5 linked regions of the Homo sapiens genome follow. The protein of the gene in region 5 interacts with the protein of the main gene of each other region in a pairwise test. Each region holds a gene or a part of one and is shown on either strand. Other genes may lie near its edges.

Evidence for each region.
Region 1: the proteins of STC2 (region 5) and PPP1R8 interact in a two-hybrid assay, tested with the Homo sapiens proteins (one large-scale study listed by BioGRID and IntAct).
Region 2: the proteins of STC2 (region 5) and AIFM1 interact in a two-hybrid assay, tested with the Homo sapiens proteins (one large-scale study listed by BioGRID and IntAct).
Region 3: the proteins of STC2 (region 5) and EIF2B3 interact in a two-hybrid assay, tested with the Homo sapiens proteins (one large-scale study listed by BioGRID and IntAct).
Region 4: the proteins of STC2 (region 5) and PTN interact in a two-hybrid assay, tested with the Homo sapiens proteins (one large-scale study listed by BioGRID and IntAct).

What each region holds. Positions count from the first base shown.
Region 1 is NC_000001.11:27,848,041-27,853,356, reverse strand, and holds the end of PPP1R8 (nuclear inhibitor of protein phosphatase 1), read right to left. Parts: intron 3,265-5,316; coding exon 2,911-3,264; 3' UTR 1,681-2,910; downstream 1-1,680. UniProt on the Homo sapiens protein: Inhibitor subunit of the major nuclear protein phosphatase-1 (PP-1). It has RNA-binding activity but does not cleave RNA and may target PP-1 to RNA-associated substrates. May also be involved in pre-mRNA splicing.
Region 2 is NC_000023.11:130,130,572-130,136,679, reverse strand, and holds part of AIFM1 (apoptosis-inducing factor 1, mitochondrial isoform AIF precursor), read left to right. Parts: coding exon 1-37; intron 38-494; coding exon 495-635; intron 636-3,224; coding exon 3,225-3,367; intron 3,368-4,880; coding exon 4,881-5,005; intron 5,006-6,108. UniProt on the Homo sapiens protein: Functions both as NADH oxidoreductase and as regulator of apoptosis.
Region 3 is NC_000001.11:44,974,190-44,980,807, forward strand, and holds part of EIF2B3 (translation initiation factor eIF2B subunit gamma), read right to left. Parts: intron 4,272-6,618; coding exon 4,126-4,271; intron 1-4,125. UniProt on the Homo sapiens protein: Acts as a component of the translation initiation factor 2B (eIF2B) complex, which catalyzes the exchange of GDP for GTP on the eukaryotic initiation factor 2 (eIF2) complex gamma subunit.
Region 4 is NC_000007.14:137,251,857-137,258,474, reverse strand, and holds part of PTN (pleiotrophin isoform 1 precursor), read left to right. Parts: intron 1-3,500; 5' UTR 3,501-3,501; coding exon 3,502-3,616; intron 3,617-4,837; coding exon 4,838-5,011; intron 5,012-6,618.
Region 5 is NC_000005.10:173,321,915-173,327,131, forward strand, and holds part of STC2 (stanniocalcin-2 precursor), read right to left. Parts: intron 4,097-5,217; coding exon 3,954-4,096; intron 1,517-3,953; coding exon 1,305-1,516; intron 1-1,304. UniProt on the Homo sapiens protein: Has an anti-hypocalcemic action on calcium and phosphate homeostasis.

The sequences.
Region 1 (5,316 bases), on a different chromosome or scaffold from region 5:
CGGGCAGAGGCACCCCTCACCTCCCAGACGGGGCGGCTGGCCGGGCGGGGCGCTGACCCCCCCACCTCCCTCCTGGACGGGGCGGCTGGCCAGGCGGGGGGCTGACCCCCCCACCTCCCTCCCGGACGGGGCGGCTGGCCGGGTGGGGGGGCTGACCCCCCCATCTCCCTCCCGGACGGGGTGGCTGGCCGGGCTGAGGGGCTCCTCACTTCCCAGTAGGGGCGGCCGGGCAGAGGCGCCCCTCACCTCCCGGACGGGGCGGCTGGCCGGGCGGGGGGCTGACCCCCCCACCTCCCTCCTGGACGGCACGGCTGGCCGGGCGGGGGGGCTGACCCCCCACCTCCCTCCCGGATGAGGCGGCTGGCCGGGCGGGGGGCTGACCCCCCCCACCTCCCTCCCAGACGGGGTGGCTGCCGGGCGGAGACGCTCCTCACTTCCCAGATGGGGTGGCTGCCGGGCGGAGGGGCTCCTCACTTCTCAGACGGGGTGGTTGCCAGGCAGAGGGTCTCCTCACTTCTCAGACGGGGCGGCCGGGCAGAGACGCTCCTCACCTCCCAGACGGGGTCTCGGCCGGGCAGAGGCGCTCCCCACATCTCAGACGATAGGCGGCCGGGCAGAGAGGCTCCTCACTTCCTAGATGTGATGGCGGCTGGGAAGAGGCGCTCCTCACTTCCTAGATGGGATGGCGGCCGGGCAGAGACGCTCCTCACTTTCCAGACTGGGCAGCCAGGCAGAGGGGCTCCTCACATCCCAGACGATGGGCGGCCAGGCAGAGACACTCCTCACTTCCCAGACGGGGTGGCGGCCGGGCAGAGGCTGCAATCTCGGCACTTTGGGAGGCCAAGGCAGGCGGCTGGGAGGTGTAGGTTGTAGTGAGCCGAGATCACGCCACTGCACTCCAGCCTGGGCACCATTGAGCACTGAGTGAACGAGACTCCGTCTGCAATCCCGGCACCTCGGGAGGCCGAGGTTGGCGGATCACTCGCGGTTAGGGGCTGGAGACCGGCCCGGCCAACACAGCGAAACCCCGTCTCCACCAAAACCAGTCAGGCGTGGCGGCGCGTGCCTGCAATCGCAGGCATTCGGCAGACTGAGGCAGGAGAATCAGGCAGGGAGGCTGCAGTGAGCCGAGATGGCAGCAGTACAGTCCAGCTTCCGCTCCGCATGAGAGGGAGACCGTGGGGAGAGGGAGAGGGGGAGGGGGAGGGGGAGGGGGAGAGGGAGACACTCATTTTTACAGACCCTGTGGGGAAGTCAACTCTTTGCACAGCTGATGTTATGAATTTCTGTTCTTCAGAAGGTTGCTCCTCCTACGAGTCTGCACTTGACCCAAGGATCTGGAACCTAGCTGGCATCTTCATCTCAAAGCCACATGTAAGTCTCACAAACACAGTATACTTACTGCAAATGAGATTCCGTATGCAGGCATATTCCTTCAATTCAAATTCTTGCTGAAATCCCTCCTAAACTTACTTACCTTTAGCTTCCGTTTGCTCCTGTGTCACCAAGCTATGGCTCAAATGCACAGAGCTCTAACTGCAGGGTGGGTGATAGGGCTTATGCAAACGCCCTAAAGCCCCGTCTCCCGTCATGAGGTCTCCTGATGAAGGGCACCAAGCACTTCCGAACCAACGCTGCTTTGTGAGGCTTCAGTCTGGGGACTACATTCTCTCATTAGAATTTCCACACTCATTTAGGGCATCTTTATTTGTAATATAATGGGGATGGAGCATTGCCTCCCAAGCCCAGTGACTGTGCCTTTAGCAAACATTTCCAGATGGCAGTGGCAATCAGTGACTGAGAGACAAATTCACAGCCTGCACCCAAATGACAAAAGTTACGTTTAATTTACAATGTAATAAAGGTTACAGGTAAAAAGCTACACATAAAGCATGAAAAGGCCTATTACACAAATGTACAAATCTCTGTACAAAGCTTGTATCAATGTTTCCTAACTTTGTCTCCTATGTTTGTTAGCCAGGTCTAGTCTTGGAGCTCTGAATAACAAGAGCTCTCAATTGAGGGGGGAAAGAGCCTCCAAACTGACATCTAAAAATTCCTCTTAGAGACACCAGTTACTTCCAAACAAATCTTTTCCTTTTTAATTTGAATTACCCCAACTGGTCATATCCTTTGAAAACTGCCTTCATAATACACTTAAAAGTAATGCCTTAGAGTAGAGGACAGTACTCTGGAATTAAATAAGAAACTTCAGCAGGAGGAGTGCTCAGGTTTGACAAGAAAAACAGGTAAATTTCAAACAATACTGTAAGTTAAAACTATAAACCTGTGTCTATGGCACCAGTCACAGATGAAGGAAAATCGAAATGTTTTCATTCCAACAGGAAGGACAAAAGAGAAAAGCCTAGCTACTGGACCTCAAAACCACTGACCCAAGGAAACATTTTTTAGTTTAAACCTCAGCTTAACTGCAGAATTCTAAGCCTTCTTTTTGATCAAACTGAGATCTATGGCAACCCTTCTGCTACCCGGGACTTGGAAGGATAGTGAATATAAATTAGGCTCTGGACCCCCAAGGCTGGTGATGCTACTGTAACCTCTACAGCTCTGGATTCAACCTGAGGGCCTGGGATATGTGACTTTACATAAAAATGATCCTAGAAAGTGGGAGAAAGAAAGGAGGTAGTGGAAGGCCTAGGAAAGAGCCAGGGCAGTCTATTGAAAAGGATATAAGAAGCCTTTCTCTACAATGCAAGTGTTGTGAAGACAGGTCTTTATGGGCTATTTCAACCCCACCCCCAATTGTCATATTACATGGTTAGGATGCCAGGAGACATTCTGAAAGACGATACCGCACACATGGAAAGTTTTTCTCCCTAGTTCATTAGCTCCCCATCACCCTTCCACCCCATTCCCACCCAATCCCACCCTTCTCCATGACCAAAAATATCAAATCAGCAAGGAAGGTGTGGGCTTCTTGCCTGGCCAAGCCTCTTTTGCATATTTCTTCTTCTTGGGTTCATTTACAGCTTCAGGGTTATAGACTGCAGGGTTTGGTGCAGGGTTCATGTTCACTGCTGACGGCACAACAGGAGTCAAGTCCACATCAGGGGCAAGGTTTGGGTATGGCATGGGCAAGCCACCGATGAGTGCTGTCCCATGGATGCCATGTGGCTGGGAGCCTGCTTCACTGTGTGTGGGGGGCAGGCCCCCGTAGAGTCCTCCGCTGAAGGCAAAGTTCTGCATGCGCCTGCTCCCTGATTCCTCCAGGCCCAGGGAGCCAGGGCCCTCCACACGCTTCTTCTACAGTTCACGATGAGGAGAGGGGAGAGATTGGAGAGAGAAGACAAGAGGTGAGGCCCAAGAGTGGTTAGCTTTTTCTATTCCAGCCTTAAAAAAATGGCTTTTGGGAAAGATTCCTAACTTCTAGCCTGTTCTCCTTTCCAGACAACCTATTTCATGATGTTGAAATCTTACGGTTTGAAGAGACCTTTCCAGTCATCTACGATGGTTCCCAAACACTGCTCCATAACAAAGTTTTCACCATCCTACATCAGCCAAGGATGGTGTTGTGAGTTTTACATAAAGTAAAACATATCAATTTAATTTATCCTAAAGTTACATAGCTCACTTTCTTATTTCATATTAAAATGCCCTTTTAGGAGGAACACATGAGATCAGGAGTTTGAGACCAGCCTGGCCAACATGGCAAAACCCCATCTCTACTAAAAATACAAAAATTAGCCAGGCGTGGTGGCAGGTGCCTGTAATCACAGCTACTCGGGAGGCTGAGGCACAAGAATCACTTGAGGCAGAGTTTGCAATGAGCTGAGATGGTGCCACTGCACTGCAGCCTGGGTGACAGAGTAAGACTCTGTCTCAAAAATAAAAAACATTTTTAAAAAAATCCCTTTTAGGAAATGGAAATGATAAAAGATGGCAATAGATATTTTACCCTTTTTTGAGGGGGAAAAAATGTGGTATGTCCATGTTTGGTGTGCAATTTTTTTTTTTTTTTTTTTTTGAGACAGAGTTTCACTCTTGTTGCCCAGGCTGGAGTGTAATGGCTCGATCTCAGCTCACAGCAACTTCTGCCTCCCGGGTTCAAGCCATTCTCCTGCCTCAGCCTCCGGAGTAGCTGGGATTACAGGCATGCGCCACCACGCCTGGCTAATTTTGTATTTTTAGTAGAGACAGGGTTTCTCCATGTTGGTCAGGCTGGTCTTGAACTCCGGACCTCAGGTGATCAGCCCGCCTCGGCCTCCCAAAGTGCTGGGATTACAGGCGTGACCCAGCACGCCCGACCTGGTGTCCAATTTTTAAACATTAATCTGAGAGCAAAACCAATCTACAGTGAAGAAAATATTTACTGGCTGCCTGGGCCTGGGAGTGGGCTGCTGCAAAGGGCTACGAGGCAACTTTTTGGAGTGAGAGAAATCTTCTCTATCTTGATTATGGTGGTGGTTACACATATATTTGCCAAAACTATATACGTAAATGTGTAGATTTTATTATATGTAAATTATACTGCAATAAAATTGACATAAAACTATACACCTGTTGATTTTGTACTTTAATGACAAGAAAACATTCCAAAGGAATAACAAACAAACAAAAAAGCTCAAGGGGCATTATGGAATCCCACAGAAAAACATCTACTTTTCCATACTAGACTAAAGCTCATGAAACATCCTGCTCAATCCTATACTCCTTTTGGATTAAACAAAGTCTAAGCAGGAACTCTGACAGATCTTACTTAGTCTAATATATTTTAGAGATTTTTTTTTTATAAAAAGTAAAACTTTCTATATCATCTCTAACCAGCATTTTCTAATCACCTTCTGAATATTAACAGGGATCTCACTACTCTTAAGGGGAAGTTTGTTGCTGTTTGGACAGTTCTAGCTATCTGATAGTTCTTCCACATGCTGAACGATCGGAGCATCTCTGTAACTTCTACCCCTTGGTTCTTCAACATACAATCTTTTTTATTTAGATGGAGTCTCGCTGACGACCAGGCTGGAGTGCAGTGGTGTGATCTCGGCTCACTGCAAGCTCTGCCCCCCGGGTTCACGCCATTCTCCTGCCTCAGCCTCCTGAGTAGCTGGGACTATAGGCGCCCACCACCACGCCCAACTAATTTTTTTTTGTATTTTCAGTAGCGACGGGGTTTCACCGTGTTCGCCAGGATGGTCTCGATCTCCTGACCTTGTAATCTGCCCACCTCGGCCTCCCAAAGTGCTGGGATTACAGGCGTGAGCCACCGCACCCAGCCAACATACTTATCTTTAAATTTAATCCACATCTGGGCTGACATTCCTATCTGTGCCATTGCCACTCATAAAATAAAGGCAT
Region 2 (6,108 bases), on a different chromosome or scaffold from region 5:
TGGCAAGTTACTTATCAAGCTGAAAGACGGCAGGAAGGTAAGGAAGGAAAAGATAGTCTGCCAAGAGGCCTTCCAGTTCTCCACTCCCCTTGCCTCATTTTTACTCCTTCATTTGACACCAGTAGATTAGTTTTCCTGGCAGTTGCCATTAACCTGATATAATTTTCCGAATTAACCATCCCTCCATTAAAACAGAATGATGAGAGCCAGAGTAGGCTCCTGTGAACCACTTTCCCTTAGCCCCATTCTATCTGTCTCACAGAGTTTTGAGTCCTGGCTAGGGTGGCAGATTTCTGTTCGAATGACATGGGGGATGTGCATGGGATGGGGTGGTGGAGGCTTATGAAATAGAACTTAAAATCCATTTATCAGAGGTAAGTTAACCCATGATTTTTTAAAGTCCCAATTCTTAATGGCATGAAGGGCCATTGTTACGCCTGTAGGCATAAATGGAAACTGTGGTAATTGACTGAATTATTTCTTTTTTGCCTCAGGTAGAAACTGACCACATAGTGGCAGCTGTGGGCCTGGAGCCCAATGTTGAGTTGGCCAAGACTGGTGGCCTGGAAATAGACTCAGATTTTGGTGGCTTCCGGGTAAATGCAGAGCTACAAGCACGCTCTAACATCTGGGTGGTAAGTGTGCTACAGCATGACCAGGCATAATTCATTCTCCCTAGCCTGTGAACAAGTCTGCCCGGTGGTGTGCTAAAGCTCATCAACAGCCTAACCAAATAGGGTCAGAGTGTTTGGAGGCTGAGGGTACAGAATAGAAATGTGTGAACTGCTTGATTCAGAAGACCAGGTATGGCCTCATCTGCAAGCTAGTGGCAGATGAAATGAACAGTGTGCATGCCTGCAGGGGTAGAGCTCTTCCGGTTCTACTTATTGGCAGCAGCTACTGGCATAACCCCTGGTGGGCATGCACATAAGCCTTCAGATGGATCTGCTGTTCCCTTTGCTCAAACTTGAATCCGGAGGATGGAGGATGAAGCAATGTTATAACCTGTTCCCTAGAAAGGAAAATTACTCTGTTTTCATTTTCCTTGAGTACTATTTTTAGCTGTTTTTTACAATCTATTATGACATAAACAAGACTATAGTATGTAGGAACCATGAGGTAATTTCCCCATTGCTAGTTACAAGTGTATTGTGTTTGTTTATGGACTCTGCAACTAAGGACGTAGGTACCTTGGAGGAATTTTTTTCCCCCTCCAAACCTTGTTTTTTTTTTTTTTTTTAAAAAAAAAAAGATGTACTGGATCTTTTTAACCTGTTATAAAAGTAATACGTGGGCCAGGAGAAGTGGCTTACACCTGTAATCCCAGCACTTTGGGAGGCTGAGGCAGGTGGATCACTTGAGATCAGGAGTTTGAGACCAGCCTGGCTAACATGGTGAAACCCTGTCTCTCCTAAAAATACAAAAATTAGCCGGGTGTGGTGGCACAGGCCTGTAATCCCAGCTACTTGGGAGGCTGAGTGAGGCAGGAGAATCACTTGAACTAAGGAGGCAGAGGCTGCAGTGAGTGGAGATCATGCCACTGCCCTCCAGCCTGGGCAACAACAGAGCAAGACTCAGTCTCAAAAAAAAAAAAAAAGTAATATGTGGTCAATGTAGAAGACAGACAAGAAGGAGAGAGGAGAGGAAAGTCACCTGCAGCAACCATTAATATTTTGGTGTATTTCCTTCCCTGTGTTTCCTTGCATGTAGGTTTTATTGTTGGTTTGTTTTATTCGTGGCAAGCATACTATATATAATATTCTGCTCTTTTCCACTTAACACCATAAATGTAAGCATTTTCTATGTTGCTTCAGACTTTGTAAACAGTTTAATGACTATATATTCCATTAAGCGAATTTCACAGTTTACGGTTGCTCACTCGTTGGATTTTTAGGTTGCTTTGGGGGAGTCTAAATAGCCACAAAGATGAACAAAGGGTTAGAGAGCTCAAATGCCACATCCTTCATGAAGCTGGTCCAGTTCACCCCCGGCTGGAGGTTCTCGCCCTCTGCTTGAAATACTTGACTCCTTTAATCTGTACCTCTCATATGGCACACTACTGTTTACATTGCTCTGTAGTTGTGAGCAAGGCTGTATCTTTCTGTACTAGGTTGTATGCTCCTCATAGTCAAGGTCCATGTCAGTTTTGTCTCAGCAACCCGGACAACATAATACTTTTGTATATAATAAGTACTCCATAAATATTTGTCGAATGAATGAATACTGAGTGACAAAAAGAAATCTAAGAAAACATTTCTAGGTGAGAGGCAGTCACATCCAAAAACTGGTTTCTACATATAGAAAAGAATATTCTGCAAATCATGGTTATTAAATATCCTGTCTGTTAAGGAAAGAACAGGAAGTAGACATAAGTAAACAAAACTATAGAAGATTTAGGTTAGCTTTATGGAAGCAGAATAGATTTTTTTTTCTTTTTTTTTTTGAGGCGGTGTCTCGCTCTGTTTCCCAGTCTGGAGTTCAGTGGCACGATCTCAGCTCACTGCAACCTCCGCCTCCTGGGTTCAAGCCATTCTCCTGTCTCAGCCTCCCAAGTAGCTGGGATTACAGGCGCTTGCCACCACACACGCCTAATTTTTTGTATTTTTAGTAGAGATGGGGTTTCACCATATTGGCCAGGCTTGTCTCGAACTCCTTGTGATCCACCCACCTTGGTCTCCCAAAGTGCTGGGATTACGGGCATTTGCCACTGCACCTGGCCTGGAATAGATGTTTTAAAATGAGATCTCAGGCCAGGCGTGGTGACTCATGCCTGTAATCCCAGCACTTTGGAAGGCTGAGGCAGGCACATTGCTTGAGCCCAGGAGTTCAAAACCAGCCTGCGCAACATGGCAACACCCCATCTCTACCAAAAAAAAAAAAAAAATTTAGCCAGGCATGGTGGTGCATTCCTGTAGTCCCAGCTACTTGGGAGGCTGAGGCGGGAGGATCATCTGAGCCTGGAGGTCCAGGCTGTGGTGAGCCATGATCGCACCACTGCACTCCAGCCCAGGCAATAGAGTGAGACCCTGTCTAAAAGAAAAAAAAAAAATTTAAATGGGTTATCAGCTGTTTTTGTTAGTTTAAGTACAACTCTGGCCTGTAGATGGAAAACATGAATTAGTTACCATTACAAGTGTTCTTTGAGCCCCCAAAGTTTATATTTTGTCTTTAACTTGCTTTTTTTTTTTTTATCATGTGTTCATGTTATGTATTTGTTTCCACAGGCAGGAGATGCTGCATGCTTCTACGATATAAAGTTGGGAAGGAGGCGGGTAGAGCACCATGATCACGCTGTTGTGAGTGGAAGATTGGCTGGAGAAAATATGACTGGAGCTGCTAAGCCGTACTGGCATCAGTCAATGTTCTGGTAATAGTGGTGTGCCTTGGAGACCCAACTGATTACAACTCAGTATCTCTAGGACCATAACACAGAGTTATGGTTTGGTTTTATTATGAGCCAGTTAGCTTCATACAGAAGGGAAAAAAGTCCATCTTATGTCCACACATTCTACCCTCAGGTAGCCATCTGGCAGAAGTGTCCTGTTTAGTTTTTCACCAAACTGATCCTTTTGTAAAACATTAAAAGAGAAAAAAATTATTTTAAGTGTTCTGTCTGGCGTATGTTAGACTAGGTGAATGAATGGAGATGGCACCAGCACTTCCGGCAAAATAGGTCAGAGGCCGAGGTGGGCGGATCACGAGGCCAGGAGTTTGAGACCAGCCTGACCAACATGGTGAAACCCCGTCTCTACTAAAAATACAAAAATTAGCTGGACGTGGTGGTGCATGCCTGTAATCCCAGCTACTCGGTAGGCTGAGGCAGGAGAATTGCTTGGACCCAGGAGGTGGAGGTTGCAGTGAGCCGAGATCACACCACTGCACTCCGGCCTGGGTGACAGAGCGAGACTCCGTCTCAAAAAAAAAAAAAAAAAAAAAAGGAGTGTCAGAAAGCATTCCAGTCCTAAAAGATGAAGGCTGGTCTGGTATGGTTGCTCATGCCTCTAATCCCAGCACTTTGGGAGGCCAAGGCCGGGGGATTGCTTGAGCCCAGAAGTTCGAGACCAACCTGGACAACATAGCAAGAGCTCGTCTGAATTTTTTAAATAAAAAGTTTTTAAAAGTTAAAAAAAAGAAAAGTGGAGGCTAAGGGGAAATACTGTAGGTTAATGAAGCCATAAAACATCTCAAATTCTGAATTCCATAAATGTGGAACACTCTTTAAAGCTTCAAAAAGGGAATTTCAAGACAAAAGTAGTGAATAGCAAAAGTGGGAACCTCATCACTTTCCAAATGTGGCATGGGATAAAAGCACGAATAAATTCAAGAACGTTTCAATCACCGCATGGATATGTGGTCGTGTATAATGGCTTTTTAAGGAAAAGTCAAAGCTATTAGGGTTAATCTTACTTTCTCATGGTCATCCCTAGATGCTCTAGCAACAGCAGATCAGTTGGCATCTCTCGTGATCTGCATACTAAGTTCTTTGGTTGGCATAAGAGTGCGGTGTTGGTCGGGTGCGGTGGCTCACATCTGTAATCCCTGCACTTTGGGAGGCCAAGGCGGGCAGATTACTTGAGGTCAGGAGTTCAAGACCAGCCTGGCCAACATGGTAAAACCCCGTCTCTACTAAAAATACAAAAATTAGCCAGGGTGGTAGTGGGTGCCTGTAATCCCAGCTACTCAGGAGGCTGAGGCTGGAGAATCACTTGAACCCAGGAGGGAGAGGTTGCAATGAACTGAGTTCGCACCCATTGCACTCCAGCCTGGGCAACGAGTGAAACTCCGTCTCAAAAAAAAAAAAATGCAGTGTCATGGAGAATATGTGCTACCGTGTCATTCCTTACAGTCCCTTGACAGAACACCCTCTTCTCTCTTCTTAGGAGTGATTTGGGCCCCGATGTTGGCTATGAAGCTATTGGTCTTGTGGACAGTAGTTTGCCCACAGTTGGTGTTTTTGCAAAAGCAACTGCACAAGACAACCCCAAATCTGCCACAGAGCAGTCAGGTAAGAAAGTCCTAGCACTCCTCTTGGAGAGTGTTGAGAAGCAGTGGTCCAGATTCTCCTGAACAAGGGGTTTCTGTATTGGCCAGAGGGGCTTGTCAGTGAAAGCCTCTCTTCATGTTGTGCTTTAAAAGAAACCAAACCCCAAGTCCTCACTCTTTAGTGGTCTGAGATTTGGCAAAATCAGGTATCCTGGTCAAAGCATAGATTCAAATATTGTGGGTATCTGTCCTAGACAGTGGACAGTGGCTAGCTCAATGACACTGCTGTTTTGTGTGTCTCTGGGAAGACCTTTCTAAGGAAGAAAACAAGAAAACCTGAACTTTTTAGATTGCGTTTTTATTTTTCTTTCTTTCAGTTGTCATTTTTATTATTTTGCTTCAGGCGAATCTCAAGAACACGGCCTGATAGGCTTAGCTTAAGACTGGCTATCCTCCATGGGTCCTGCGCAGGGAGGAACTGGGCTGAGTAGTTATTTAGCTGCCTCCCATTCCATTTGGCAGATCTTAGTGCCAGGTTTTCTTTAGATGGGAGGCACCTCTCTTGGAATGGACTTCTCTCCCACACATGTCTCTTTCATTAACTCCGAGACCTTATTCCTTGACCTTAGCTCAAGTTATTTAACTTCTGCATCCTTTTGCCAGAGGTGTCTCAAGGGCAAGGTGCTGTTTAAGAAGGAGAAAGCAAGACATTATATGGATATGTAGGTCCTTTTCCTGTGTAATTCTAATGTATTCCATATTCCTTAATTCTGATCTCTCCTAGTAACCTAGTAAGTGGATTCATGTCACTGCTTTGTCGACTGGACAGTATTATTTGGAGGCTGGTGGTTCTCAGCAAGGTGCCCCCTTCCTATGCCACCCTTCCCTTCCCCTCTTTCTCTAGGAAGAAATGCCTCCACTATGGTTTTTCCAAATGGAAGTGCCTTCTGCTTTGTCTAAAGTACCTGTCTAATAGCACTGTCCAATAGAACTTTCTGCTGCGATGGAAATGTTCCATCTCTGCTCTGTCCAGTACGTTAGCCACCAGCCACATGTGGCTTTTGAGCTCATGAAACATGGTGAGTACAGATAAGGAACTGAATTTTACATCTTACTCAGTTTGAA
Region 3 (6,618 bases), on a different chromosome or scaffold from region 5:
AGAGCTGGGCATAGTGGCTCATGCCTGTAATCACAGCATTTTGAGAGGGCAAGGTTGGGGGTATCACTTCTGTCCAGGAGTTCCAGACCAGGCCTGGGCAATACAGTGAGATCCTTTCTCTCTATATATAAAAAAAGTCCAGGTGTGGTGGTGCATGCCTGTAGTCTCAGCTACTTGGGAGGCTTAGGTAGGAGGATCACCTGAGCCTGGGGAGGTCGAGGTTACAGTGAGCCGTGATCGAGCCACTGCACTCCAGCCTGGACAACAAAGTAAGACCCTGGTCTAAAAAAAAAAAAAAGAAAAAAAAAGAAATTAGCCGGGCATGGTGGCACATGCCTGTAGTCCTAGTTACTTAGTTACTTGGGAGCCTGAGGTGGGAGGACTGCTTGAGCCCAGGAGTTTGGGGCTACAGTGAGCTGTGACCACACAACTGCACACTAGCCTGGGTGACAGAGTGAGACTGTCTCAAAAAATAAAATTAATGTAATTTAATTTTTAAAAAGAATAAAGATTAAGAAGGAAGATATAATACTGTTTTTATTTGCAGGCAATATGATGATAAGGTCCTAAACGAATCTATAATTTAAAAGGTCACAGCGCATAATGCCAAAATACAAAAATCAATTGTATTTCTATGTACAAGCAATAAACAATTGAAAATAGAAAAAATACCAGTTACAATATCATTAAAAATATTTACCTAGGAATAAATTTATCAAGACATGTTCAAAATTTCTACATTGGGCTGGGTGTGGTGGCTCATGCCTGTTATCCCAGCACTTTAGGAGACTGAAGTGGGAGGACAGCTTGAGCCCTGGAGTTTGAAACTAGCCTGAGCAACACAGTGAGACATCTCTACTAAAATAAAAATCTAAAAAATTAGCTGTGCATGGTAGCATGTGCCTGTAGTCCCATCTACTTGAGAGGCTGATGTGGAGATCACTTGAGCCCAGGAGGTTGAGGCTGCAGTGAGCCTTGATCACACCACTGCACTCCAGCCTGGACGACAGAGCAAGGCTGTCTCAAGAAAAAAAAAATCATCACTGAAAATTACAAAACTCAGTTGAGAGAAATTAAGCGAAACTTAAATAAATAGATACACAATTATGTGTTACTTAATGACAGCGATATGTTCTGAGAAATCCGGTATGTTCTGAGAAATGCATTGTTAGGTGATTTCGTTGTGCGAACATCATAGAATGTACTTACTCAAACCTAGATAGTATAGCCTACTACATACCTAGGCTATATGGTATAGCCTATTGTTCCTAGGTAACAAACCTGTATGTTATTATATACCATAGGTAACTGTAACACAATGGTAAGTATTTGTGTATTTAAACATATCTAAACATAGAAAAGGTACAGTAAAAATATGGTATTACAATCTTATGGGACCACATATGTGGCCAGTCATTGACCAAAAATCGTTATGTGGCACATTACTATATATACGATGTTCAAGGATCAAAAGATTCAATATTAAGATGTCAAATCTGAGCTGGGTGAGGTCGCTCATGTGTGTAATCCCAGCACTTTGGGAGGCCAAGGTGGGTAGGTCACTTGAACCTGGGAGCCCGAGACCAGCCTGGCCAACATGGTGAAACCCTGTCTCTATAAACTACAAAAATTAGCCAGGTGTGGTGGCACACACCTGTAATCCCAGCTACTCAGGAGGCTGAGGCACGAGAATCAGTTGAACCTGAGAGGTGGAGGCTGCAGTGAGGTGGTGCGGTGAGGAGGTGCAGTGGAGGTGGAGATTGCACCACTGCACTCAGCCTGGGTGAGAGAGCAAGACTCTGTCTCAAAAAGAATACAAAACAAAGACAAAACCATAGAAGAACATCTACACAAAGGTCAGATGGGCAGAGATTTCTTAGGCCGGACACAAAAAGCAATAACCATAAAAGAAAAAATCAGTAATTTGGATTTCATCATCATTAAAAACTTTTCTTCAAGAGACACCATTAAATAAAAAGCCACAGACTGGTGGAAAATATTCACAACACATATCTCACAAACGACTTGCATCTGGACTATATTAAGAATTCCTATAATCAATAATGGAAAGGCAAACAACTCAATTAAAAAATAGACAAATGCTTTGAACAGACACTTCATGAACATATATAAATGGCCAATAAACACATGAAAAGGTGTTCAGCATCATTACCATCAGGGAAATGTAAATTAAAACCACAATGAGATACCACTACATACATACCTACTAGAATGGTTAAAATTAAAAAGACTGACAACACCAAGTGTTGATGAAGACGTGAAGCAAACGCAACTCTTACAAACTGTTGATGAAAGTATAAAATGGTACAATCACTTTAGAAAACTGCTAGTTTCCAATAAAGTAAACCTTACAGCCTATAGAATATTTTCACAAAAAGACCTGCAGAACAATGCTCATAATAGCTTTATGCATGATAGCCAAAAATTAGAAACAACCCAAATAACTGTCAATAGGAGGATAGATAAATAAATAGTAGTATATTCATTCAATGGAATACTACTAAGCATGAAAAGGAACAGATTAGTTATACTTTCAATAACATGAAAGAATCTGAAAAATATGTTGAACAAAAGAAGCCAGAACAAAATTGTATGTTTCCATTTATATGAAGTTTATAAGCAAATAAAATTAATACATAGTGATAGAAACAGAAGAGTGGTTGACTCAGAAGATCAGAGACTTACTAGAAAGAAGCACAAAGGAACTTTCAGGGGTGATGGAATTGTTCTAGATTTGGATAATGGTAATCTAGGTGTATATTTAGTATCTGTGCATTTTACTGTGTATAAATTATTCCTCAATAAAAGGGGTGGGAAAGCCATGTACATATTTGCATTAATTTTTTGTTTTATAGTACAAAAGTCGGTTGAAAATAACACATCCGTTTAATCACCAGAAATAACAGAAGAAAGTTTGTCTCCCATTTCAAGTAATATGGCAACATCACAACGATTGAATTTTTTCCAAAGAAAAACAATTTTAGAACAATCTACAGTGGATCTTTCTCAGCTCATGGGCCACAAACCATTGGGGAGACTATGTTCTCATATCTATGTGCTCCTTAGTTTCTTAACCAAAGGTTAACTAAAAGTTCAAATATTACATGGGAGGTCTATGAATTTTTGAACGTTCCTTTGTACTTCTTTCTAGTCAATCCTCACCTGCAGAGTCAACTGCTCCTCTGATTTATACATTAACATTGCTTGTTCACAAACTTCATATGAATGGAATCTTTTGAAGTACATTTAGAGTATATCTTTTTTTTTTTTTTGAGATGGGATCTCACTCTGTTGCCCAGGCTGGAGTGCAGTGGCATGATCTCGGCTCACTGCAACCTCCACCTCCTGGGTTCAAGCGATTCTCCTGCCTCAGCCTCCCCAGTAGCTAGGATTACAGATGTGCACCGCCATGCCCAGCTAATTTTTGTCTTTTTAGTAGAGACAGGGTCTTACCACGTTGACCAGGCTGGTCTCAAACTCCTGACCTCAAGTGATCCACCTGCCTTGGCCTCCCAAAGGGATTACAGGCATAAGCCACTGTGCCTGGCCTAGAGTATGTCTTTTTTTTCTTTTTTAATAAAAATGTGCTATTACTCAAAAACATTGGAAACCAGTGACTATGACAAATTAATGTCTAAATCTTTACTAGTAACCAAATCAAAGAGCAACTGAAGAGTACATGGGTAACAAAGTATGTGATGTAAAAATATATCAGAAATAAAGTTTTGTAAACTATAATGCACTGGGGGCCAGGCGTGATGGCTCACGCCTGTAATCCCAGCACTTTGGAAGGCCGAGGAGGGTGGATCACCTGAGGTCAGGAGTTCGAGTCTAGCCTGGCCAACATCCCATCTATACTAAAAATACAAAATTAGCCAGGCACGGTGGCGTATGCCTGTAATCCCAGCTACTTGGGAGGCTGAGGCAGGAGAATTGCTTGAACCCGGGAGGTGGAGGTTGCAGTGAATTGAGATCACACTACTGCACTCCGGCCTAGGTGACAGAGCGAGGTTCTGTCTCAAAAAAAAGACTATAATGCACTGGGAAAACATAAGATATCATCTATCTTCAATAAACAAGAAGAGTCAAAAAATTGCTTTTCACCTTAAGTTTTGGATATATGTAGCGCAAAGAATCTGCAGTTCCCATGTCAGCGTCATCAGGAATACACACAATATCTGGCTTCATTTTCATCTTGAATTCTGCACATAGAGCCTTTTGAACATCCCTGGTTGTAACCACAATGACTTCTATAGGACAAAAGAAAAAAAGAAAGAAAAACAAAAACTTACTCATATAGACAGTGGTTCCATTATTTCAATTAGATTTGGTCTATTTCTAGGTGTAATAACAACTGCTAATATTATTGTGCCTTTTCAATATATTTTACCTGCATTCCCCCAATAAATTCTTTTTTTTTTTTTTTTTTTTTTTTTTTTTTTTACAGACAGGGTCTCACTCTGCCACTCAGGCTGGAGTGCAGTGGCACTGTCGCAGTTCACAGCAGCCTCAACCTCCCAAGATCAGGCAATCCTCCCACCTCAGCCTCCCAAGTAGCTGAGACTACAGGCATGTGCCACCATGCTTGGCTAATTTTTGTATTTTCTGTAGAGATGAGGTTTCGCTCTGTTGCCCAGGCTGGTCTCCAACTCCTGGGCTCAAAGGATCCGCCAGCCTTGGCCTCCCCAAGTGTTGTGATTACAGACGTGAACCACTGCATCTGGCCTCCCCCCAATTAATTCTTAGAACAATCTCATCTTACAAATGAGGAATCTTGGATTAAAAGACATGCTGGCTGGGCGCAGTGGCTCATGCCTGTAAATCCCAGCACTTTGGGAGGCCGAGGCAGGCGGATCACTTGAGCCCTGGAGTTCAAGACCAGCCTGGGCAACATGGCAAAACCTTGTCTCTATAAAAAAACTCCAAAAAACCAGAGGTTTAGGTGGGAGGATTGCTTGAGTCTGGGAGGTGGAGGTTGCAGTGGGCCAAGATCACCCCACTGCACTCCAGCCTGGGTAACAGAGTGAGTCTGTCTCAAAACAAACAAACAAACAAAAAAAAACCTCAGGTCTATATGAATGGTGCCCACACTTTAATATATTATATGCCACTTCTCCTTGATATGAAGAATTCAGAAGAACATTAATCAAAAATACAAATGGGAAGAAATATAAAAAACACTCTGGGAAGCCAAGGCAGGCAGATAACTTCAGCCCAGGAACTCAAGACCAGCCTGGGTAACGTGGCGAAACCCTGTCTCTGCCAAAAAAAAAAAAAAAAAAAAAAGGAGGAAAGAAAAATTATCCAGGTGTGGTGGCATGCATGTAGTTGCAGCTACTCAGGAGGCTAAGATGGGAGGATCGTTTGATCCCAGGAGGCAGAGGTTGCAATGAGCTGAAATCATGCCACTGTACTCCAGCCTTGGACGACAGAGCAAGACTCTGTCTCTAAAAAACAAAAAAACCAAAGGGGGCCATGCGTAGTGGCTCACACCTGTAATTCCAACACTTTGGAAGGCCGAGACAGGCAGATCACTTGAGGTCAGAAGTTCAAGACCAGCCTGGACAACATGGCGAAACCCTGTCTCTATTAAAAATACAAAAAAATTAGCCGGGAGTGGTGGTACACGCCTGTAGTCCCAGGTACTCGGGAGACTGAAGCAGGAGAATTGCTTAAACCTGGGAGGTGGAGGTTGCAGTGAGCTGAGATCACACCACTGTACTCCAGCCTGGGCGACAGGGTGAGACTCCAACATTTTAAATCTTCATTCAATACAAAGAGAGAGCTATTAAGCTACCACCCTTCCTATTGGAGGCAACTCTAATAATGGAATGAACACTGGATCACAAGACTGGGCCTCAGGCTTTGGCACCCTGATTTATTACATCTAAATATAGGACACCTCAAACTCAATGTGACCAAAGCTGAACTCATTATTTTAATGAAAATAAAATTCATTAAAACCTTTTCCTGGCCAGGCACGGTGGCTCATGCCTGTAATCCCAGCACTTTGGGAGGCCGAGGTGGGCAGATCACGAGGTCCTGAGATCGAGACCATTCTAGCTAACATGGTGAAACCCTGTCTCTACTAAAAATACAAAAACTTAGCCGGGCATGGTGGAAAATGCCTGTAGTCCCAGCTACACAGGAAGCTGAGGCAGGAGAATCACTTGAACCCGGGAGAGGTTGAACCCTGGCGGAGGTTGTAGTGAGCCAAGATCGTGCCACTGCACTCCAGCCTGGGTGGCAGCGTGAGACTCTGTCTCAAAAAAAAAACACCTGTTCCTTGTCTCCTATTCCTTTTCCTACTTAATGGCATAACTATCTACCTAGCTACCCAAGCAAAAAGTAGAGAGGATCACTAGACTTTAAAGTTCTGGAAGTCAGGGCCTGAGCTGTCTTTTCAATTCTGTACCTCCGTGTTTAATATATAACCTGGTACTTACATCAAAACAAAATTTAAAACATATATATATTGAATATCAGATAATATAAATATTACCTGGTACATAATAGATTCTCAGTAAGTACTGACTATGAGGCATTTAAGAGTCTCAATCTGCTCTTTCTGATATCTTTACAGAGTTCGTCTTGGAT
Region 4 (6,618 bases), on a different chromosome or scaffold from region 5:
TGAGAAGAACAGTGTTCTTCAATTCAAAGCTGTTGTTGAACACGTATTGTACACAGGTGACCCACTGTACACATGGACTTGTGTGCATTTATTTCATAGAAGATTTAAGTGCTGAAATCCACCATTTACTCAATTCTTAATGTTCTTAATTATTCTAAATTAACATTAGAGGCAGATAGAGTGTATTTCCATTCTACTTTCTCTCCAACTCCCATCTAGTACTTACCTTTCCTTCTTTCCAGTCAGCTCATATTTCAGTTATAATGACTTGTTTAGTAGACTATTCTATACTAAAAATTTTATTTGATTTGGAAATTATGGCCTGTGTGTTTTTTTCCTTGAAATCAGTGAATAGAACTGGATTAAGGAAATCTTTTTGAAAATAACGATGAAAACAAGAGTTTAACAATATAAAACTAGAAATGCTGAGGTTAAAACTTGCCAGTGATAGCACCTTGCCATGAATAACTCTGTGTGTGCATGTGTGTGTATATGTGTGTTATTGTATTATTTACAGAAGGTAGAGTCTTTCTATTTCTGCCAAGTTATCATATTTCTCCAGTGGGCTCTGAGGTGCTTCTGGCCTCTCTTCTTGCTGTAGGTATCATAGGACTATGGATGAGCATCCCATGGCTTGGGCAGAAAGTTCTCTCAAGAGTTCTGCGTTCTCCATGAGAATTTCCAAATTCTCACAGTAATCTAATTCTCAACAACCTAAATACTTCTGATATTTGTAAGTAACTGTTGAAAATGCAGGTAAATTTTAACTTGGAAAGAAATATATTGTAATTTAAAAGTTCTGAATCAAAAAAATAATTTGCCCTTTTAAACAATTGAAATGAAAAGTTTCTGCCAAAGTGACAGAAAGAAGGCTTTCAGCCAGCCTCTGGGGAAAGCTCAAAGACTTCCACTTTGGTTTACTTTACACCTAATAATTTTAAATGACATTTGAGTACATTATGAAAGATATAGTAGCACTGATGTACCAGTGCCCAACTCAAAGAACTCTGAAAAGACTTGCAAACCTATGAGTCTAGACTGGCTTCTTTTACCATTCACACCCAATTAAAAGCGCAGGAAAAGCCTCAGAATCAGTAGAAACTTTTCTGCGTGACCATTCATGAGGTATTAGGTTGGTGCAAAAGTAACTGCGATTTTTACTTTAAGGGCAAAAGCCATGATCACTTTTGCACCAATCTGATATAATAAGAATTTAGCCTCAGGAGGAAGAACAAAGCACCTTATCTTATATTGTAGAAAGTGCTGGAGATGGTGAGTAGCTAATCTAGGCTTGTGATTCAGGGAAAAAATTAAGGTTCAAAATATTAATTTTAATTGATAAGTGAAATATGCTTCATCCATATGTTGGAATCCAAAGTCATCAATTTTTAAAAACAACACTTATTTACATTCCCACCAACAGTGTAAAAGCATTCTTATTTCTCCACAGTCTTGCCAGCATCTATTGTTTCTTGACTTTTTAATAATTGCCATTCTGACTGGCTTGAGATGGTATCTCACTGTGGTTTTGATTTGCATTTCTCTAATGATCAGTGATGTTGAGCTTTTTTTCATATTTGTTGGCTGCAGAAATGTCTTTTGAAAAGTGTCTGTCATATCCTTTGCCCAGTTTTTGATGGGGTTTTTGTTTTGTTTTGTTTTGTTTTGTTTTTTATAAATTTGTTTAAGTTCCTTGTAAATTCTGGAAATTAGTTCAACCATTGTGGAAAACGGTGTGGTGATTCCTTGAGGATCTAGAACCAGAAATACCATTTGATCCAGCCATCCCATTACTGAGTATATACCCAAAGGAATATGAATTATTTTAATATAAAGACACAGGCACACATAGGTTTATTGCAGCACTATTACATAGCAAAGCCATTGAACCAACCCAAAAGCTTATCAATGATAGACTGGATAAAGAAAATTTGGTACATATATACAATGGAATACTAGGCAACCATAACAAGGAATGAGATCATGTCCTTTGCAGGGACATGAGTGAAGCTGGAGGCCATCATCCACAGCAAACTAACACAGGAACAGGAAACCAAACACCGCATGTTCTCACTCATAACTGGGAGTTGAACATTGAGAAGACATGGACACAGGGAGGGGAACATCACACACCAGGACCTGTTGAGGGGTGTGGGGTAAGGGGAGGGAACTTAGAGGACCAGTCAATAAGTGCAGCAAACCATCATGGCACATGTATACCTGTGTAACAAACCTGCACATTCTGCACATGTATCTTGGAACTTAAAGTAAAATTAAAAATAAATAAATTTAAAAAAACACTAATAAGAGACAGCATATACAATGCCACAGAAAAGGAGAAAAATTCACGGGCAAGGATATCATCTCAGATATTTTTCAATGAGGAAAATAAATTAGAGAAAAGAATAATCTCAACCCCTTATATACATGAAACGTTTTATTGTTCACACTAAAGAGAATGTTGAAACACCTAAACTAATCTAGTACTACCTCTGGAAAAAAAATTATCAGCCTATGATCATAGGACATTACAACCATTTTTATGTGAAGTATAACACACCACTAACACAGCAGATGGAGCTCAATAACTGCCAGGCAAGTTGCTGCAGCCATGATATGGTGTAGCCATTGGGAAGTGGGTCGTCCTGGAGCTTGGACTGAAACTTTCTCAAGGGTGTTTTGGCCAAGTGACCATATTGACACTAGGCTGTCACAGGTGGCTTCAAGTTCTAGGAGAGTCTTTCTAATGATATCTTGGGATTTTTGATTCACATCAAATGTGAGCATTTCCTATTATGAGTGAGTGTAAAGACTTCACCATATCCTAAGATTAGAGGATTTTTAGCACATGCGAATTTATCATTGTGTTTGATATGTATCACAGGTGTGCTAGCTCTACTTCTGGGATTCACTCTTTGTTAGATCAATAAATAATGGAATAATAAGATGATAGTGATGATTATGACAATGATTTTAAAAAGATCAGAGATGTTGGTTGTTGTGTATGCGTCTAAATAGAAACAGTAAACATATACTTGTATAGGTAATTCATTCATCATGTCTACTCAAATTGGTCTTGTGTACAGCAGTATCATTGCTGTGGTTGTTTCTAATATTGTCAGGAATTTTGAAGATGGCTGTAGTTGTCGATATTACCAAGTGATGCTATCAGCAAGACAGTAGGACTGTGTTCAAATGCATGCCTTCAAAGTTCTTTTGCTTCCATAATTTCTGAGTCATACTTAGCAAATGGTTGTGAAGTCTTAAGTGAAGAACTGTTGCGTTTTGTCAGTGAATACGTGATTGATTGCAGAAGAGCACTTATTTCAATGGCTGTTGGTAAGAATAGATAAAATTCTACCCAAGATAATTGATATGAATCTTCCTGAAATCTAACATTCCAGAAATGGAAAGTGGAGCCTTTTCATCAAGGGTTCAATGAATCTTCCTTTCTGACTTAGGTTAATGCCACCTTCTTCTCTTTCTCTGTTTATTCCTAGAATGCAGGCTCAACAGTACCAGCAGCAGCGTCGAAAATTTGCAGCTGCCTTCTTGGCATTCATTTTCATACTGGCAGCTGTGGATACTGCTGAAGCAGGGAAGAAAGAGAAACCAGGTAAGCAGTAGGGTTCTGAAGGCAAGATGCTTCATTGATTAATGTCCATCTAGTCTAATTACCTGCTTTTCCTTCCTCTCTTCTACTCTGCCTCTCTCCCTTCCTATTCCTCTATTCCTTCAATCTTCCCTTTTCAAAAATAATTACTTAGAGGAACCTAAGAAATATCCTGTCTTATTTTTCTCCCATTGTAAGTCTTGGATTGCATGACGATGATGATCATTAATATAATGATCAAATTAGCAGCTACTATGTATAGAACATTGACCGGTAATCAGGTGCTTTATTATTTACCTCTCTACCTCAAAAAAAAAAAAATGCACTGCAACTTGTTTTTCTCCTTAATTTCAGATTTACAGAGGAGGAAACAAGCACAGAGAAGATAAAGCACCTTCTCTATGCCACTCCCAAAGTCATAAGTAGGCTGTGGAACTGACAGTCTGTTTAAATCTGTGATGCACCATATTTGTATGATGTCATTCCTTCTACAAGGCAGAGAAAGGAACAACAACTTACACTGAAATGGCTCATTTGACAACTGTTATTTCTTTTTTTTTTTTTTTGAGTTGGAGTCTCGCTCTGTCACCAGGTTGGAGTGCAGTGGTGCGATCTCAACTCACTGTATCCTCTGTCTCCCGGTTCAAGTGATTCTCCTGCCTCAGCTTCCCGAGTAGCTGGGGCTGCAGGCATGCACCACCACGCCCAGCTAATTTTTGTATTTTTAGTAGAGTTGGGGTTTCACCATGTTAGCCAGGATGGTCTCGATCTTTTGACCTTGTGATCTGCCTGCTTCGACCTCCCAAAGTGCTGGGATTACAGGCATGAGCCACTTTGCCCAGCTGACAACTGTTATTTCTAATAGAATATTTTCTTCATTTTTAGGAGAACTATATTTTTGACCATCTCTTCTTTTATAGAAATGTTTGCTTCTAAAAGGAGATGCCACTAAATCACTTAGCACAGTCTCTGGCACATAGTAAGAGGGAGTTCAATTAATATTAGTTTTAGCTCTTTTCTCAGTTTTCTTTCTCTCTTCTCTTGATCATTCATTGGTTCAATAATTTGGTTAATATTCATCATGTTTCTACTATTCATTAGACAATAAGGATACAGATTAAAAAACACAGATCCTGCAATTAAGGTGCTCAGGAATGAACTTGGTTATATCTGGAAGTTAAGGAGTTTTCTGTATGTTGATTAGGTTTTCCTCCTTTCATTCAGAAAAAAAAGTGAAGAAGTCTGACTGTGGAGAATGGCAGTGGAGTGTGTGTGTGCCCACCAGTGGAGACTGTGGGCTGGGCACACGGGAGGGCACTCGGACTGGAGCTGAGTGCAAGCAAACCATGAAGACCCAGAGATGTAAGATCCCCTGCAACTGGAAGAAGCAATTTGGCGGTAAGCCTCATGCTACTGAGTTAATCTCCTACTCTGAGATAATTCTCAAATTTTTCCACCAAATGTCTTTTTAAGGATAAGTACTTTTTATTTTAAATAACTTTATCTTACCAGACACAAAGTGACCAGACTGGTCCCATTTCAGGCCAGGCAATTATTTGTTGTGGAGGCTGTCTTGTGCATTTTAGGGTATTTAGGAGCATCGCTGGCTTCTACTCGCTAGTTTCCGGTAGCATTCCTCACCCGCTCCAGATGTGAAAACTAAAAATGTCTCCAAATATCTATGGCCAAATGTACCCTGTTGGTCAAAATCATCCCTGGTTGGGAACCACTGCCTTTCCAAAGGGACATAAAATATATCCTTGATTCCTCTGAATAATGTTAATTGATCTGTCTTCTCTCTCCTTTCTTCTATTTCTAAGTTCCTTTGATTTTTCCTTTCCCCTTTTCTTATTTATTCTCCTGCTTCTCCATGTTTCTCCCTGTCACTTTCAGACCTTCTCTCCCATTTGATCCCTCCCCAACCTCCACACAGTTTCACAGATTCACTTACTGAGTTCAGCAGGGCTGCTCACAGCCACGTTTCATAAATCTTTCTCCCACTGACTGGAGTCAGTCTTATGCTGGCCTGATCTATCTATCTGAGACAGGATCTCTCAACACTTTCAACTTTATATCCAGTATTGAACCCTCAAATAACCTCTTCCACAATCCAGACTTTTTGTCTTTCTTAGCCATAGTGGGACATGATGCCTGAAATGTCCTATCTGTGTTCTATGGAAATGCATTGTGGCCCATAGACAAGTGAGGAAGGATAATGGATGTATACATGTATGTCTTTTTCTCCCTCTGTAATCTTTGGGGTATTTTTTATTTGAATGGATATAGACAAGTTCTATAAAAGTGTGATGGAGAACAGGTACATTTGGTCTTAAATTGTATATGGGCACCTTAAAAACCCACTTACAAAAAGTTTAAAAGGTATATCTTAAAGACTTACATTGAGAATATTAAATAACTCTCAAACTCAACAGTAAACAACAAAACAACAACAACAAAAAACAAAACAAACAAAACCTAACAGTTCAATAAGAAAGTGGGGAAAAAACATTAACAGACATTTTACCAAAGAGGATATATAGGCAACAAATGAACTCCTGAAAATATATTCAGCATCTTTTCCTTATTAGGGAACTAGAAATTGAAACCATAATGAGATATCACTCTACATCTATCAAAGTGGCTAGAATAAAAAATAGTGACAAGACGAAATGCTAGTGAGGGTGCCAAGAAACCAGATCCCTCATATGTTGCCAGTGGAAATTGTAAGGTGGTACAGCCACAGTGGAAAAAGAGTATTGCAGTTTTTTACGAAATGAAACATGCATTTACCATGTAACACAGCAGTTTCTTGGTAATTTATCTCAGAGAAATGAAAACTGATGTTTCCACAAAAACCTATACATGAATTTATATAGCAGTTCTATTTGTAGTAACCCAAGGCTGGTAACAACTCGGATGTCCTTCAGCTGATGAATGGTTAAACAAACTGGGGTACATTGGGACCATGGAATACTACTCAGCAATAGGAAGAAACAGACTATTGA
Region 5 (5,217 bases):
GTTAGCCTAATTCGAGGAAAATGCAATATTGTTTTGCTTTTGGCAAGAGCTTCCTGCAGAGTTTCGCCATGAATTGTATGATTCTAACACTGTAGCAAGGGTGTTGCAAGATGCCTATGACCTTATAACCAAGTGGAAAGAGACAGGAGGTGCTTGCTGTTCTCTGTCATCTAAGTGGTGTTGGTGTGGTAGGGACATAACTGGAAGAAGGTTGTGGCACAAACTGAGGATCAAGAGTTCATAAAATTATACCGATTTGGCTCAATGAGTCACCGTGGAGAGACCAACAGTGCCATCAAACTGGTAATGACTTGTACTGAACTGGTTGGCTAGTGGCTTTCTTTCTGCCCTGTGTCTCTTAGGAAAGAGCCATTGTCAATATTTAAAAAAAAAATCTTCAGGGGCTCCTGGCCCTGCCTCATGTTAGGAACAATTGTGTACCAACATGCTTTACCATGCTGCAAAATTTAGGATCCTGTGGCTGAAATATTTTGTAAGAAATGATGCATCCTGAATTTATCATTGAATTTCAAGTCTTGAAATAAGTAAGTTCACATTTCCTTGTTTTGGCATAGAAGTGTTTAGCTGATTAAAGTTTTTGGCACTTGTTTTGCATTTCCTCTGAGAGGGCACTAATGTATGAGAGAAGGTAAACCGAACCTTCTAAGGGAAAGGAAAGTTAAGGAGGCAGGAAAAGCATCTATAGCTCTGTTTTCGGGATTTAAGAGTATAGGTTCTGGAGGCAGACTGCTCAGCAGACTGGAGCCAGGTCCCAAGTCTGGCTTTGCCTGTCACTAGCTGTGTGAGCTCTGCCTTAGTGAGTCTCAGTTTTCTCATCTGTCAAATGGAGGTGACGAGGGCTGTGGTGAGGATCAAGTGAAAAATTCACAAGGAGCCCTTAGCCCAGTGCCTGGCGCTTAGTAAATATTCAACAAATGTTATTAGCAATTTGCTGTCTGTAAGGACACCTCTACAGCTACTCAGAATATTCTGAGAGCTAGTGGGTTCTTGGCTAAGGGGAAGATGAAGAGTATTACTGAATCGACACATTTCATTCTTAGTAAAACGATTTCCCATTTCTGTTGCTTGTGATTTTGAGACTGATGAGGGAATTCTCTCTTTTCCTAAAAGCCAGCAGGAAAGGGGCCTTTTAGTAGAGTCAGTGTAGCTTTCTGAAGTAAATGGAAGCCTTCTCCATTTGACAGGCATTCAGCCTCTAGAAGCAACGCGGCTCTCCTCCCATACACATTGCCATCCTTGCTGGGTGGCCCCTTCACCCAGGCCCTCTGCGGGGCAGTACTCACTCGTGCAGCAGCAAGTCCTTGAAATGGATCATCTCCACTATCACCCGGGTGTTCTCCTGGGCAGCCGCGCACAGGTCGTGCTTGAGGTAGCATTCCCGCTGCAACTGGGACACCATTTCCCTGATGGCCGGGCACTTCCGGCTTATGCAGCCGAACCTGTGCCGCAGAGCGTGGGCCTTACATTTCAAGGCGTCTTTGATGAATGACTTGCCCTGAGAACACACAGGCCGGGGAAGGGAGAGAGGGGCAGAAAGCAGAAGACCTCGTTACATGCTTGGACATTTCAGCCCTTCTTGGGCTTACACAGGATATTTCTGACATCAGAACCCCAAGGCCCCACCAGAGACGGACGTCCTCCCAGGTGACAGGCAATGCGACATCCGGAGGCACGTCCAGAGTGACATGACACCCCCAGCACTGGGCAACAAGGGATGTTCATTCTGTAGACGAACACATCTCCCTCCTTCCTCCCTGGCTACTCTGTGAGTTTCCCTCCAACGGGGGCTTCCGTGGCTATGTGTCCCTCAGGTAGCCCTGTGTTGGTTGTGTGGTGGCAACTTTTCTGGAACACAAAGGGAATTTGGCCAGACACAAATCCATAAATCCCTCACGGTTCTCACAAGCAGTCTTCCCTAAGTGGAAGGTGCCTGCATGTCCAAATCTCACACGTTTCCTTTTTCCCTTGATTCCAGGGGCGACACCGAGATTGATTGCTGATTGTACCTCCCTTTCTGCCTCCGTGCCTCCCACGCCCCAAATCCATACCCTTGTCTCCTCCTACCCTACCAGGAAGAGCGCTCTTTTCCTTTTTGAAAATGACTCTACTCCTTTAAACTGTTCGGATTATTGCCTCTAAAAGGCTGGCCTGGCACCCTGCCTGGCAGCATCTGGAGTCTGAACTGCCGCACTGGCGGCCCCTCCCCCACGCTCCCTGCCTCCGAGTGGCGAAGGCAGCCAGGCATACATCTGGCCTGCAGTTCTCTTTCCTGGCAACCCCGTCTGATTGTGCTTATCCTAGAAAGGAGACAGCTGTTGGGGGTGTGGAGGCGAGCTCGGTGCTGCTCCCTTATCAACCTCGCGCAGCCCGGAGGCATTGTGGGATGCCTACCCGGGAATCCCCGCACCCCACATTACTATAGAAACTAGCTGTCGTCGGAGAGGTCACCCCTCTGTTTTTAGACAGGCCCGGAAGTCACTGAGTTGAGAAAGTAAATGGGTTTAGGTTGGAAGTGGGAAGCCAGCCAGCACATTTATTTTGGTTTTGTCTTTAGCAGCCATAGAAATGTCTACAGATAGCGTCTGATCTCTGAAAAACCATGTGGCCCGCATGGCCTCCCCGTGGCCCCCTCTCTTTTGACTCTCCAGCCAGAGCCAAACAGAATGGAGGGCAGGGTGTGCCCGTTTATTAAGCAGTTATGTGCTGAGCATCAACTTGAAAGGGATGTCTCTAACTTGAGAACGTATTCCTGTTGGTTGGGAAAAAAAAGAGGAAGATGAATTTATGCGAGGGCTGTGGCAATCTGTTCTTGGTATTCTTCCCTGACATCCTGTGGGATTGCCCTTAAATACACGTCTTTCCTCCGGATTTCCTATTACGTTTCCTAATTCCCGTTAATCCAGAGTGATGCTTTATTAGGGAGCCTCAAGGAGTTCAAAGTTCTACCTCTTTCCTTCCCTGGTTTCAGTTTCCCCTCTGGCCACACCGCACATCCTCTGCAGTTTAGGCTGCCAGCCCCGTCTTCGCCTCCCCTCCTTGTTCCCAGGCACTGCTTTGTCAGGCTCACTACTATATGTCAGTGGATGGGGACTGGTGACATCCATAAATCTCACCTAAGCTGATGGCCACCTCCAAATGTTGGCATTGCTCTCCAATGAAGCAGGAGAGACGTTTCTGAGATATAGTAACAGGGCGTTTCAACAGGGCATATAAGTGGCCAGGGAGAACACGAAGAAGGTGAGTCTGATGCCACATGCCATCTAAAAATGTATTTGCGTTGTTGGCACTGGAGCCATATGTTGCTTGTTGTGTTCCTGCCTTGCCCTGAGCAGCAACTCCGCGTTCCCCTTGGGACCCTGGGATAACCGAAGTGGGTCAGGCCCTGACTATATTTATCATATAGAGCAAAAGGAAAGTGTGGAACTGAAGGACTCAATCAGGGTTTCGACCGGTCAGCTTGGGAGAGAAAGATCTGCTACTCAGGAGGAATAGAAGTCTGCTCTTTTGGAGGTCCTGAGTTATTCGGGTTGGCTGCCCACACACCACATGACGGATTTCTACATACTTTGTGTCTCATTTTCCTAGTAGGTGAAATGACTTCTGAAATGTATAATTGGGGGTTCCTGCCCCTGCCTCTCATGCAGTGGGCTTTGGAGACTGAGTTCTGGGTGGCCAGACACAGCGTGTCCCCTTACAAGGTGTTTATCGTTTATTATGACATTGGTCTCCAGTCCACCCTGCCTGTGTAGACACAGCTTATGAGTGCAGAAGGGAGACACTGGCATAATGTTTTATACCTAGACTGTCGCTTGCAAGCACTAAAACACACCACAAGGAACAGCAAAGGAAGTTGGTTAACAAGGCTTTCCAATGAACGTTTCAATCATGTATGCTCACCCCAAACATTCTTCATGCTCTGGATGGATTTTTACCTGGGCATCAAATTTTCCAGCGTTGTGCAGAAAAGTCATGCAAATCCCATGTAAGCCCCGAATCTCACAAGAGTTGTTCTCGAAACATTCAAACACGCCACACCCCACATCGCCAGCGTTGACCAAACAGTGCTGGATCTCCGCTAAAAGGAAAATCACATACAAATATATACAAAACTCTAACCCATGCTGGGCAATGCAGAGAGGTCATTTGAAATAAAAGTTAACAACTAAAGGAAAATTTAAGGAGGAAAAAAGACTTAGTAATGACTATTTCAGGACCTAAAAAGCCTGGGAAACAAAATTTCGTCCTTTAATCTACTCATGAAAAATATCTCTATTTGTAAATATTTGTAGAAAAGAGCCGAAAAATTACAAAAATTACAACCAGAAGGCTGGTCTGAGCATTCCTCCTTTTCATCCTTTCCATTTTATTAAAGTATTTGTGGGAATACTTAGTTTGAGAGCAAAATATATTTCCGCTTTTTAAACCCACAGACAAAAATAAAATTTTGAGTCGAAGACTGTACTTCATCAATGAAGTACCCTTCTCTACTTGATCTGTAGAAGTTGCTGCTATTAAATCACAGCCATTTGCTTCCTGACCCCCAAATGACAGCATCTAAAAAGCAGTTTCAATTCAGCTTTATGATTCAACACCTAAAAATCAAAACAAAATTCCTATTAAGGCAGTGCCTCCCAACCCTTCGCATTAAAATACCAGCTAGGGAAGCTGCGGTTGGCGAGCAGGCTTAGGAGTGGAGTCAGCTGGGGGCGAGCCTTCAGAAACGCCACTATCAGAGGTTGCAGGCTCCTTTTAATTAGGGATCCGGGTGAGGTATCACCCAATCCCCTAGAATTCCCGCAGCCCGGGAGGAAGCTTGCAGCCCTTCACCGAATGTGGCCCCCAGTCCTCTCTCGGAAGGGGCAGACGGAGGGAGTTAACTGTCAGGCTGCAGCGTGCAAAGCCTCTTCCCTCCCTTTCCACTACCCAAGTCTCTGATTTAAATCAACCACAAAATTACATCAGAAAAGTATATTTTGGAAGAAGGGCGGGGTCGGAGCAGATAACCCGCATCAGATTAAATCTAGCCAGAGAATGAGGGGCGTGTATTGTTGAGGGTCACCGACCACCGAGAATCAGGTTCAGTTCTCAGAGGAAGCGCCAGAGGAGGGGGAGGGTGGGCGAGGGTCTCGGGGTGGTGGGGGTGCCGGCCCCAGCATGTGGAGGCGACAGGATCCGTAAGACCCCACGCGCCGCCGG